Linked DNA regions of Homo sapiens: regions 2 and 3 are each reported to be linked to region 1. Evidence: microRNA targets listed by miRTarBase, many of them from high-throughput screens and not tested one by one. Region 1 holds a microRNA gene; each other region holds the end of a gene's coding sequence.
The links. Region 1 holds the annotated microRNA hsa-miR-495-5p (GAAGUUGCCCAUGUUAUUUUCG, at 956-977, opposite strand). A microRNA usually pairs through its seed, bases 2 to 8, with sites in the 3' UTR of a target mRNA and lowers its output. Matches are read on the target gene's strand: a 7mer-m8 pairs with bases 2 to 8, a 7mer-A1 pairs with bases 2 to 7 and ends in A, and an 8mer does both.

Region 2: the mRNA of SF3B1 is a reported target of hsa-miR-495-5p. Seed matches in the 3' UTR shown: 7mer-m8 at 2,401-2,407.
Region 3: miRTarBase lists KIAA1586 as a target of hsa-miR-495-5p. The part of its 3' UTR that is shown has no 7-base or 8-base seed match.

What each region holds. Positions count from the first base shown.
Region 1 is chr14:101,031,486-101,034,744 of GRCh38, reverse strand. It overlaps MIR495 (microRNA 495), which reads right to left and starts at 990; the gene lies at 909-990. LOC124903407 (mucin-2-like) reads right to left here. Exons shown (of 5, transcript XM_047432049.1): 5 at 263-3,259. It overlaps MIR543 (microRNA 543), which reads right to left and starts at 2,758; the gene lies at 2,681-2,758.
Region 2 is chr2:197,389,586-197,392,844 of GRCh38, reverse strand. It overlaps SF3B1 (splicing factor 3b subunit 1), which reads left to right. Exons shown (of 25, transcript NM_012433.4): 25 at 384-3,061. The coding sequence ends at 542. Among named protein-coding and RNA genes, the nearest start is that of SF3B1, 44 kb to the left of the region's middle.
Region 3 is chr6:57,054,120-57,057,378 of GRCh38, reverse strand. KIAA1586 reads right to left here. Exons shown (of 4, transcript NM_020931.4): 4 at 2,154-3,259. The coding sequence ends at 2,516. Among named protein-coding and RNA genes, the nearest start is that of KIAA1586, 9.1 kb to the right of the region's middle.

The sequences.
Region 1 (3,259 bases):
AGTGGGGCGGGGGCTGGGCGCACTGGCTCATGCCTGTAATCCCAGCACTTTGGGAGGCCAAGGTGGGTGTGGATCATGAGGTCAGGAGTTCAAGACCAGCCTGGCCAACATGGTGAAACCCCGTCTCTGCTAAAAATACAAAAAATTAGCTGGGCCTGGTGGCGGGCGCCTGTAATCCCAGCTACTTGGAAGGCTGAGGCAAGAGAATCGCTTGAACCTGGGAGGCAGAGGTTACAGTGAGCCAAGATCGTGCCATTGCACTCCAGCCCAGGAGACAGTGCGAGACTCTGTGTCAAAAAAAAAAGAAAGAAAAAAAGAAAAGAAAAGTAAAGAAAGAGCGGGGCAGGGAGGATTAGGCTCCAGTAAATCACCACTCTGAGAAATCCCATCTCCCAGAACCACAGGGACGCCTTCTGCCACAATTGCTACCCCCAATCAATTCTTCTGTGGAGGTGCGGGTGGCAGTCCCCCAGATGGCATGTCCTCATGTCCCCTTCAGCCATCCCCTCAAGCCTCTGGAGAGAGCGGATGGGGGCAGGGGTCTTCATTGCTTATTTGTTTTTGTTGTTGTGGCAGCTGCTTCCTTTTTTATTTTTTTCTTGGCTGCTATGATCTGAACTCTTCTCAAATGTTGGGGAACGCTTCTCAATGGAGCCTGGAAGTGCATCTCCCCAGCCTCCCTGGCAGCGGGGAACTGGCATGTGGTTGAGGCCTCGCCAACTGTGCCTGTCCGAGAGGTGGGCGTGGACTGAGGACTGAGGACTGAGCATGGTCCCTGAGCCCACCAACACACAAAGTCACCGAGGGGCTGCCAGGACAAATCCTCCATGTACATACCAAGAGAGGTAGTGACACCAGGTCCCATGCTCAGGGTCCCGTCGGGGATGGAGGCACTTCAAGGAGATATTTGATACCGAAAAAGAAGTGCACCATGTTTGTTTCGTCACATATAAAGCGAAAATAACATGGGCAACTTCTTTTCAGGTACCAGAGATGAGCACGTCCTCCCTGCCAGAGGCACACCTGGGCGTGAAGGGACACTGAGGGTCAGGGCGTGAGGGCAGGGCCGGGCAGACGCTGCCAATCAAACTTATGCTCAATTAAGCCTAAAAGCATCAGGTAAGTTGGCTCACCCCAGGGGAGGTGGGGGACATGCTTCGAAGGGCTGGGCTGACACTGAGCAGAGGCGGACAGTCATCACGGATAAAGCAAACCGATCCCAGACTCCCTCTACTTCGGGATCCCAGGAAGTCTTCATGGGCAGAATTCAATAATCAGGGCAGACGGCTTTCGGAATGTTTACTATCAACCCTGCAAATGCTCATGGAGAGCATCACTTCAGAGAAAATGGGATGGTCCTGGACCCAAAAATAGAATCTCCTCCATGAGCCCATGGTTCCAGGAAGGAGATGGGAAGACAAAGATATCGAATCAGGAGAAACAAACCACCAAGGCAGCCCCGGCTCTCGGTGGACCCATCTCTCTGTGCACCTTGCATGGTGCTGACCACTGCACCTCCTCTCTAAAGTGCTCCGGGTTCCCTGGAGGCATGGCTTGGTTCTAAAACACTGACAGTTAAGTGTGAGTTGTGACAAATACAGCCAACCCACAGAGAGCCAAAGGACAGCAGGGGCCAGGAAAGGACAACGGCTTCCCCAAGTCCACATCACTTGCAGGGCAGCCTCCCAGAGAGAGGTGGATTCGAGGGAGAGTGAATCGGGGCAGAAGTTCTGGGGCCCACCATCCATCAGGCCTTCCAGAGAGGACCCAGTGACCCATTGCTGGACACAAAACACGGTAATTGTGCATCATTTGTCAACCATAAATTAAATCACTAAGACAAAGCTTTGAAAGCATAAGTCCATAAGAAAAGTCACCTTCCACCAAAACCCTGCCTTAAATAGGACACTGAAGATAGATAGGCAAACCGTGAGAAACACATCATTGAAAAAAATGCAGGCTTTCCCAGTCACACTGGAAAACACACTGTGGTATCATCTGTTTGTATTGCAAGTAAGATAAGATCTAACTCCAACTGGCTTAAACAAGTAAGGGATTTATAGACGTATATAACTAAAAAGTACAGAGACAGAGCAAGCTTCAGGCAGGGTTTGATCTAGGGACTCAAATGATATCATCCAGGCTCTTCTCTAGGTCTCCAAGATGCCTTTCATGGTACAGACTCCCTCTGCTGTGTCTGCGTGGCACCAAGCCCTCTCCTCTCAGTCCTTAAACGGCTGTGGGACCTTCGAAGCTCACGTCAAAGTTCACTGTCTATTCCCAGCTGAATGGAATAGACAGTGTCTACTCTGGCAGCTATCACAGGAAAGGGAGAAACAGTTTCTTTCCCAGAAGCTGCAGCAAGCATCTCCTTGCCTATCACTGGCCCAGTGGGGTCATGGGCCTATTCCGGAAGCAATTGCAGTGGCAAAGGAGAAGAGATCAAGAGATTCGCTTAAGCCTGGGCTGGTGGAGGAAGTGGGGCAGGGTCAATGCAATCAAAGCACACGGCGGGAAGACGGGAGCTTTCATAAAAAAAAAAAAAAAAAAAAAAAACAAGGAGAAATTTAGGAAGGAGAAAAGACATGGGGTAGGGAGGTCCTGATCAGCGTCCACTACAGGGGCCCATGTGCCTTCCCTGAAGTTGCACCCAAACCAAGACGTCTTCAAGGCAGAATAGGATACTGAAAAAGAAGTGCACCGCGAATGTTTCGTCACAAATAAAGCGAAAAAAACACGGGCAACTTCTCATTAAGTACCGCACGTCAGCACCGTTGACAACACTGCTTCTCCGCGGCTGGTATCACTCCTGCGGGCTTCCTGAGAGCACATGGGTCCTGATGCGCACCGGGCAACCGGTGACAAAGATATGGCCGTGCATACAACCCCCTCAAGACCTGGGAGACATCTAACAGGTCTGCCCCCTCTGCACAGGTGGCATTGTGTCCTGGAGCTGCTTGTGAGCACGATGTGTTCAATTTCTCAATAACAAAAAGTCTCCTCCAGTAGCACAGAATATGACAATGGCACAGAAACAGTGATTTTGCATCCTAAAAGTCCTCCTGAGGATACATGAGGAGGGACCAGGAGAGTCACAATAACTCCCCAGATAAGATGGATGAGATCTACCACCCACCCTTTAGGGACAAACAGCAAAGTGTCTGCCCTGATGGAGCCTCTGAGCCAAGGGAGTCGTCATAGAATGGGTAGCGCAAGGGATTTTTTAACATTTGCCTCAAACAGATGGAATGACCAGGGG
Region 2 (3,259 bases), not on the chromosome of region 1:
ACCTATCAACCTGTCATCTAGGTTTTAAGCCCTGCATGCATTAGGTATTTGTCCTAATGCTCTCCCTCCCCTTTCCCCCCACTGCCTGTAAGTTAAAGATTTTTAAAAGATTACTTAGCAAGAAAAGTAGTGTATTGAATTAAGTTACTTTTCCTGATTATCATTAGGGTATATTGTGCCATATGGTAGAACAATTGTGTGGTGACAGGGGAGTGAGTTTTGTCTCTTCCATTGCAGCTTAAGAGCAGTGTAATTAGTAGGTTCCCCCCCCCCCAACTCCCCAAGGGAAATAATTTTGAATCATATCTTTATGTTTTCTTAATTTTGTTAAGGTTATGTATGTTCTTAAAAATTGAAATAATGTAACCGTTCAATTATTTTAGGGTCTGTTTCACCCAGCCCGGAAAGTCAGAGATGTATATTGGAAAATTTACAACTCCATCTACATTGGTTCCCAGGACGCTCTCATAGCACATTACCCAAGAATCTACAACGATGATAAGAACACCTATATTCGTTATGAACTTGACTATATCTTATAATTTTATTGTTTATTTTGTGTTTAATGCACAGCTACTTCACACCTTAAACTTGCTTTGATTTGGTGATGTAAACTTTTAAACATTGCAGATCAGTGTAGAACTGGTCATAGAGGAAGAGCTAGAAATCCAGTAGCATGATTTTTAAATAACCTGTCTTTGTTTTTGATGTTAAACAGTAAATGCCAGTAGTGACCAAGAACACAGTGATTATATACACTATACTGGAGGGATTTCATTTTTAATTCATCTTTATGAAGATTTAGAACTCATTCCTTGTGTTTAAAGGGAATGTTTAATTGAGAAATAAACATTTGTGTACAAAATGCTAATTTGTGTGTGTTTTTTGAACATGACTTGTAAAATGCGGAACTTTGATAAAGTATTGGTTTATGTGGAATAAGTGGCTTAATTTCATTTTCTGTCACATGGTTTATAGAAAGTAGTTAGCTGAATAAAAACTATATAAAGTGATGGCATCTTTGTCAAAATTCCATTGTTGTGTTAATAATGACAGCAAGAAGAGTAGCCTCAGGGGATGTTCCCCTCAAACTAGCACAACCATTCCATCATCGTAGAAAAGTAGCACTTTTGCTAAACTGTCTTGAATATTTTGTACTTACATAGCGCCTTTCATCTCTTGATTTCTCAAAATGCTTTATGAACACATTTAAAGAAAGTGGTTTAAGTCTTGTCCAACACTTGACAGGTCTGCTGTGTTTAGCAAGTGAGGAATTTAACTTTACTTCAAAACTGCTTTCTGCCTATTAGGAGTGAGGATACCTAAGTAATGCTGATAGAACAGGACAATGTTGGGCTTTTCTCCATGTTATAAGCCACTACTCAGCAATGCATCAGTAAATACCTATTCACCCACTGTATGCCAGCCACTGTGCTTATATGCAGGGGATGCAAAGGTGCATGAGACCTGCCCTCTACCTTTAAGAACAGTATAATGGAGAAGGGGAGACAAACCTTGTGACAGATTCCTTATGTACTGTGATAATACACAGTGGCAGCAGCTAAAATGTCTAGGTTTGCTTAGCTTTGTATTCAGTAATAATAAGTTGATCTAAGAGTTCAGCATAAACTGAATGAAATGCCATTTAATGGTAGAGGAACCAAGCATTAAGGCAGTACTACACTTAATTTTTTAAGCAAATATGTAAAGTATATTTTCAAACTTTTCTAATGTTATGGCCCCAAATTTCTTAGTTTTGGCCTTTTTACTACCTATACTATTTTTACTGTTTTGTTTTGTCTCCATGTGGTAGTACTTCTGTGAACTCTAAAGGGAAAAAAAATTCTGCAAGCAGCATTAGTATATAACTACTACTGTAAGTAAAACTGCCTATTGACACTTTAGGAGTTCCTGCTTCAGAAGCTTAGTTAAGAAACAGCTTGTGGCCGGGTGTGGTGGCTCATGCCTGTAATCCCAGCACTTTGGGAGGCTGAGGCGGGCGGATCACGAGGTCAGGAGATCGAGACCATCCTGGCTAACGCGGTGAAGTCCCGTCTACTAAAAATACAAAAATTAGCCAGGCGTGGTGGCGGGCGCCTGTAGTCCCAGCTACTAGGGAGGCTGAGGCAGGAGAATGGCTTGAACCCGGGAGGCGGAGCTTGCAGTGAGCCGAGATAGCGCTGCTACACTCCAGCCTGGGCGACAGAGACTCCGTCTCAAAAAAAAAAAAAAAATTGACTTTCAACAAATTGATAGTGAGCATTAAGGGTTTCCAAGTTGGATTTGTAACTCCTCATCATTCCTTGTATGACAACTTTCTGAATATATGTCACTATGTAGTAAAATTAAACACTCCAAACTCATCTTTCTGTTGTTAGAAGTTTTCAGCGGTACTTCCATGCAACTTTAAATCTCACTGCTCTCTATGGTTGATGTCAAATGACCTTCAGTAATGACTGAGAATTGAATACAAATAGATTACAAAGCCAAAATTTGATGTTAAATGACTCAGGAAATTTTAGTTGTATTTTCAATTCAAGTACTTAGTAGCCTACGTTTGCTTGGCCTCTGGTTCTTTATGGAAAATAGGCTTTGTAGTGGCATTGTGGAGCAAAGGAGACTGTTACACCTTAATTAACTTTTTTTACTGATGCAAATAATTTGAGGATAGAGAGGAGGGAAGTAGTGAAAGCTATGACCTAAAACATTGGGACCAAATAGAGGCTCACAGATATTTGGATTATTTTATGTGCTTATTATTAAATAAGGAAAGCATTTTGTGATATGTGGAAGACGCTATGTGAAGTTTTACCTATCTTCTCAAAGACCTTTTCTTTTGTATTTTCTTTTGGTGTTTCTTAAAGCCAAACAAAGAAATGTTCTTAAGGAGACAGGGTGGGTTTTTCTGTGGGCCTTTGTTGGTTTTTCTGTGGGCCATCGCCCTCTAATGGAATTGATCTCTGGCTGTTTGATTTTTTTCATATTGTATTTTTAAAATTTGTTGTACAGTGCCCTGTGAGCACCAAGTACCACTAGATGAATAAAACGTATTATATCTAAAGTCTTAGTAGACCAATTTTTAATCTTAGTTGACTCTGTATTGTTATCACACTGCACTCTGTTGTGGTTGTGCCATTTTTGCAAAATTGAGCTCTTTCGGTTGTTTTCGAAATAAGGGAACTTAGTGTTGAAAAACCAGAGAACTTTTTCTTTAATAAGAAACTAAAAAAGTTGCAGCCACATAGGTTCAGTTTGGCTC
Region 3 (3,259 bases), not on the chromosome of region 1:
TCTCAAATTATGAAACTGTTCTAAAACTACAGAAATGTACTTATGATTTTTCAGATTTAGAATCAATTAATCTTTAATATTGCTAGGTCCTATATTCTAATAGCAATTGTTTGGTGCTTAACTAAAGGCCTTGTACTTTTTTTTTTTTTCTGAGACAAAGTCTCGCTCTGTCGCCCAGGCTGGAGTTCAGTGGTGTGATCTCTGCTCACTGCAACCTCCGCCTCCTGTGTTCAAGCGATTCTCCTGCCCTAGCCTCCCGAGTAGCTGGGACTACAGGTGCATGCCACCAGGCCCAGCTAATTTTTTGTATTTTTAGTAGAGATGGGGTTTCACCATATTAGCTAGGATGGTTTCGATCTCCTAACCTCATGATCCACCTGCCTCGGCCTCCCAAAGTGCTGGGATTACAGGCATGAGCCACAGCACCCAGCAAGGCCTTGTAATTTTTAATAAAACATCTTATTTAGGCTTTTATTCATAATTTTCTAACAATTTCTTCAACTGAAATAATTTCACATTTATCCATTTAAAACTAGTTCTCAGCCAGGCATGGTGGTTCATGCCTATAATCCCAGCACTTTGGGAGGCCAAGGCAGGAAGGCTGTTTGAGCCCAGGAGTCCAATACCAACCTGGGCAACATGGCAAAACCCCATCTCTACAAAAAGATATAAAAACTAGCTGGGTGTGGTGGCATGTACCTGTATTCCCAGCTACTTAGGGGGCTGAGGTGGGAGGACTGCTTGGGCCCAGGAGGAAGAGGCTGCAGTGAGCCACTGCAGTCCAGCTTGGGTGACATAGCAGGACCCTCCCCTCTCCCATCCAAAAAAAAAAAAAACCCTAATTCTTTCATGCAAGAATCTCAGCTATTTTGCTGAGCATGGTGGCTCACTCCTGTAATCCTAGTACTTTGGGAGGCTGAGGCAGGCGCATCACCTGAGGTCAGGAGTTTGAGACCAGCCTGGCCAACAAGGTGGAACCCCGTCTCTATAAAAAATACAAAAAAATTAGCTGGGCATGGTGGCAGACACCTGTAATCCCAGCTACTTGGGAGGCTGAGGCAGGAGAACTGCTTGAACCCAGAAGGTGGAAGTTGCAGTGAGCCGAGATTGCACCACTGTACTCCAGCCTGGGTGACACAAGACTCTGTCTCAAAAAAAAAAAATTAGGCAGGCGTCGTGGCACACTCCTGTAATCCTAGCTACTCGGGAGGCTGAGGCAGGAGAATCACTTGAACCCAGGAAGTGGAGGTTGCAGTGAGCCAAGATTGCGCCATTGCACTCCAGCCTGGGTGACACCACAAGACTCTGTCTCGGGAAAAAAAAAAAGAATCTCAGCTATTTCACATCTGGCCAAACTTACAACCTTAGTTCCTTCTAAAATTGTTTTTAAAAACTCTTGTTAATTCTGATTTTAGGTGACTAAATTTCATTGATTCTTTTTGGCATATGAAATATAATTTACCCAATTCATTTTGCATCTGCTGAAGTCTCAATTTTCCTACTTTGTTTCTTAAATAGCAGCTTGTTTTGCTCTGCCACAGCAAACTGCAATTGCCATTCATTGTCAAATCTGCAACATACCTTCTTTGAGTCTGTTTACTGTTCCAGTTGTACTAGGTTCTGCATCGCCACTTGATTCTTTTTCAGTATGCCTTCATTTTAAATTTAAAAATTTGCTCATATTCATGTGTAAACTAGAAAAATAATTTAATCATGATTAAAATAAGTATTTCAATTACCAGTTATAATTTACACAGGAATCACTGTAATTCCTGTTGTCTGCATAAAATATTCAGATAAACATGATGTTACATCAATTTGTAGAAAAAATAACTTGCATTGAATCCATCTGCTGACAGCAGTATCATATCTATCAGCAATATGTTTATATTCAATATTGGAAATGACACACAAGTTTGACAGGCACACTACAACAACCATATCTTATGCAAGGTAACAGAGTAAAATGTATTACTGAAAAACAGTAAAGCTAAGCAGAAAAATATTTCACATTGTTTCAGTTTTCATATTTAAGTAAAAGTAAATAAATAAAAATTTTACTTTTAGCCCTAAGCTGATCAGCCACATGTAGCTAGTGGCTACCATACTAGATAGCACAGATATGGAAATGAGAAAGACAAGAGCCAAAAGGCTTACAGTTTTTATTCCATTTCTCTTTTATTTAATATAACCTCCAGGGCTTAGAACTTAGCTGAGTCCTGCTATTTTTTGCATCCTTACTTAAAGTAAAACAGTACAAAATTATAAACGGTGTTTGTTCTGTACAGAACTTCATGGAATATGTATTATGACCCACTCTAGCAAACATGGGCCAATCTCTAAAAAACTATAGCTTCTAAAACCAATCTTCAAGATTATCTTCTTAAAGAACGCCTTTTAAACAGCAACATGCTGATAAAAGTTTAACTGGCTTTCCAAAAAAAAAAAAGACCTTTATGTATATAAAGGATGTGTAGTACATAATTTACAGATGACAAAAAACGTATACAATATTCTATTTTAAGTTCCATATAGCCAATTGATTCTCATGGAAGACTTTTGTTGACTTTTGCCGAACTCTTGTATCTGTAGCCAACCTGTGGTTGCAATTTGACCAAGATTTTACAAACGGTGTTGCATCCCAATCTGCTAATTCTTTCCCCAGTAAATTTATTGTCATTAAATCTGATACATGATCTATTGTTAAACTATTTCTCACCCTTGTACAAATTATGTTCATTAAATTGAAACCCCTTTCAGCTTCAGCACTATTGATTGCAATGGTGCTAACTATCTTTTTAGCTTTGTATATAGTTGTAGGAATTGAAACATTGTTTGATTTTATATTATTATTTACAAATTCCCGAAAATCATTCAAATCAACTTCATATTTTAAAATTTTACACAAATGAAATAATGTTTTTTCACCAGCTATCCATGGTGAAGTTATTTCTTCATAAGGCCATGTGGAAGGTTCCAGCAAATCAAAGTAATTAAAAATATCTTCATGGTTTCTGTCAGATAAAAGGCGTAGGTTCATGTGCTGAATTATATTGTCTAGTAATATACTCCTAGGAAGAGCATTAAATTTATTGTTTTTATTAAATGGAATATCTTTAAACTTATCTGACTTGATCAAATCTTCAATTTGAGATTCATACTTTCCAGTACCAATTTTTAAATTTTCCAAAGCTCTTATGGTACGTTTGATCAATTTTTGTGCTTTCTTAATATTAGTTGATCTTGACTGTAATGCAGT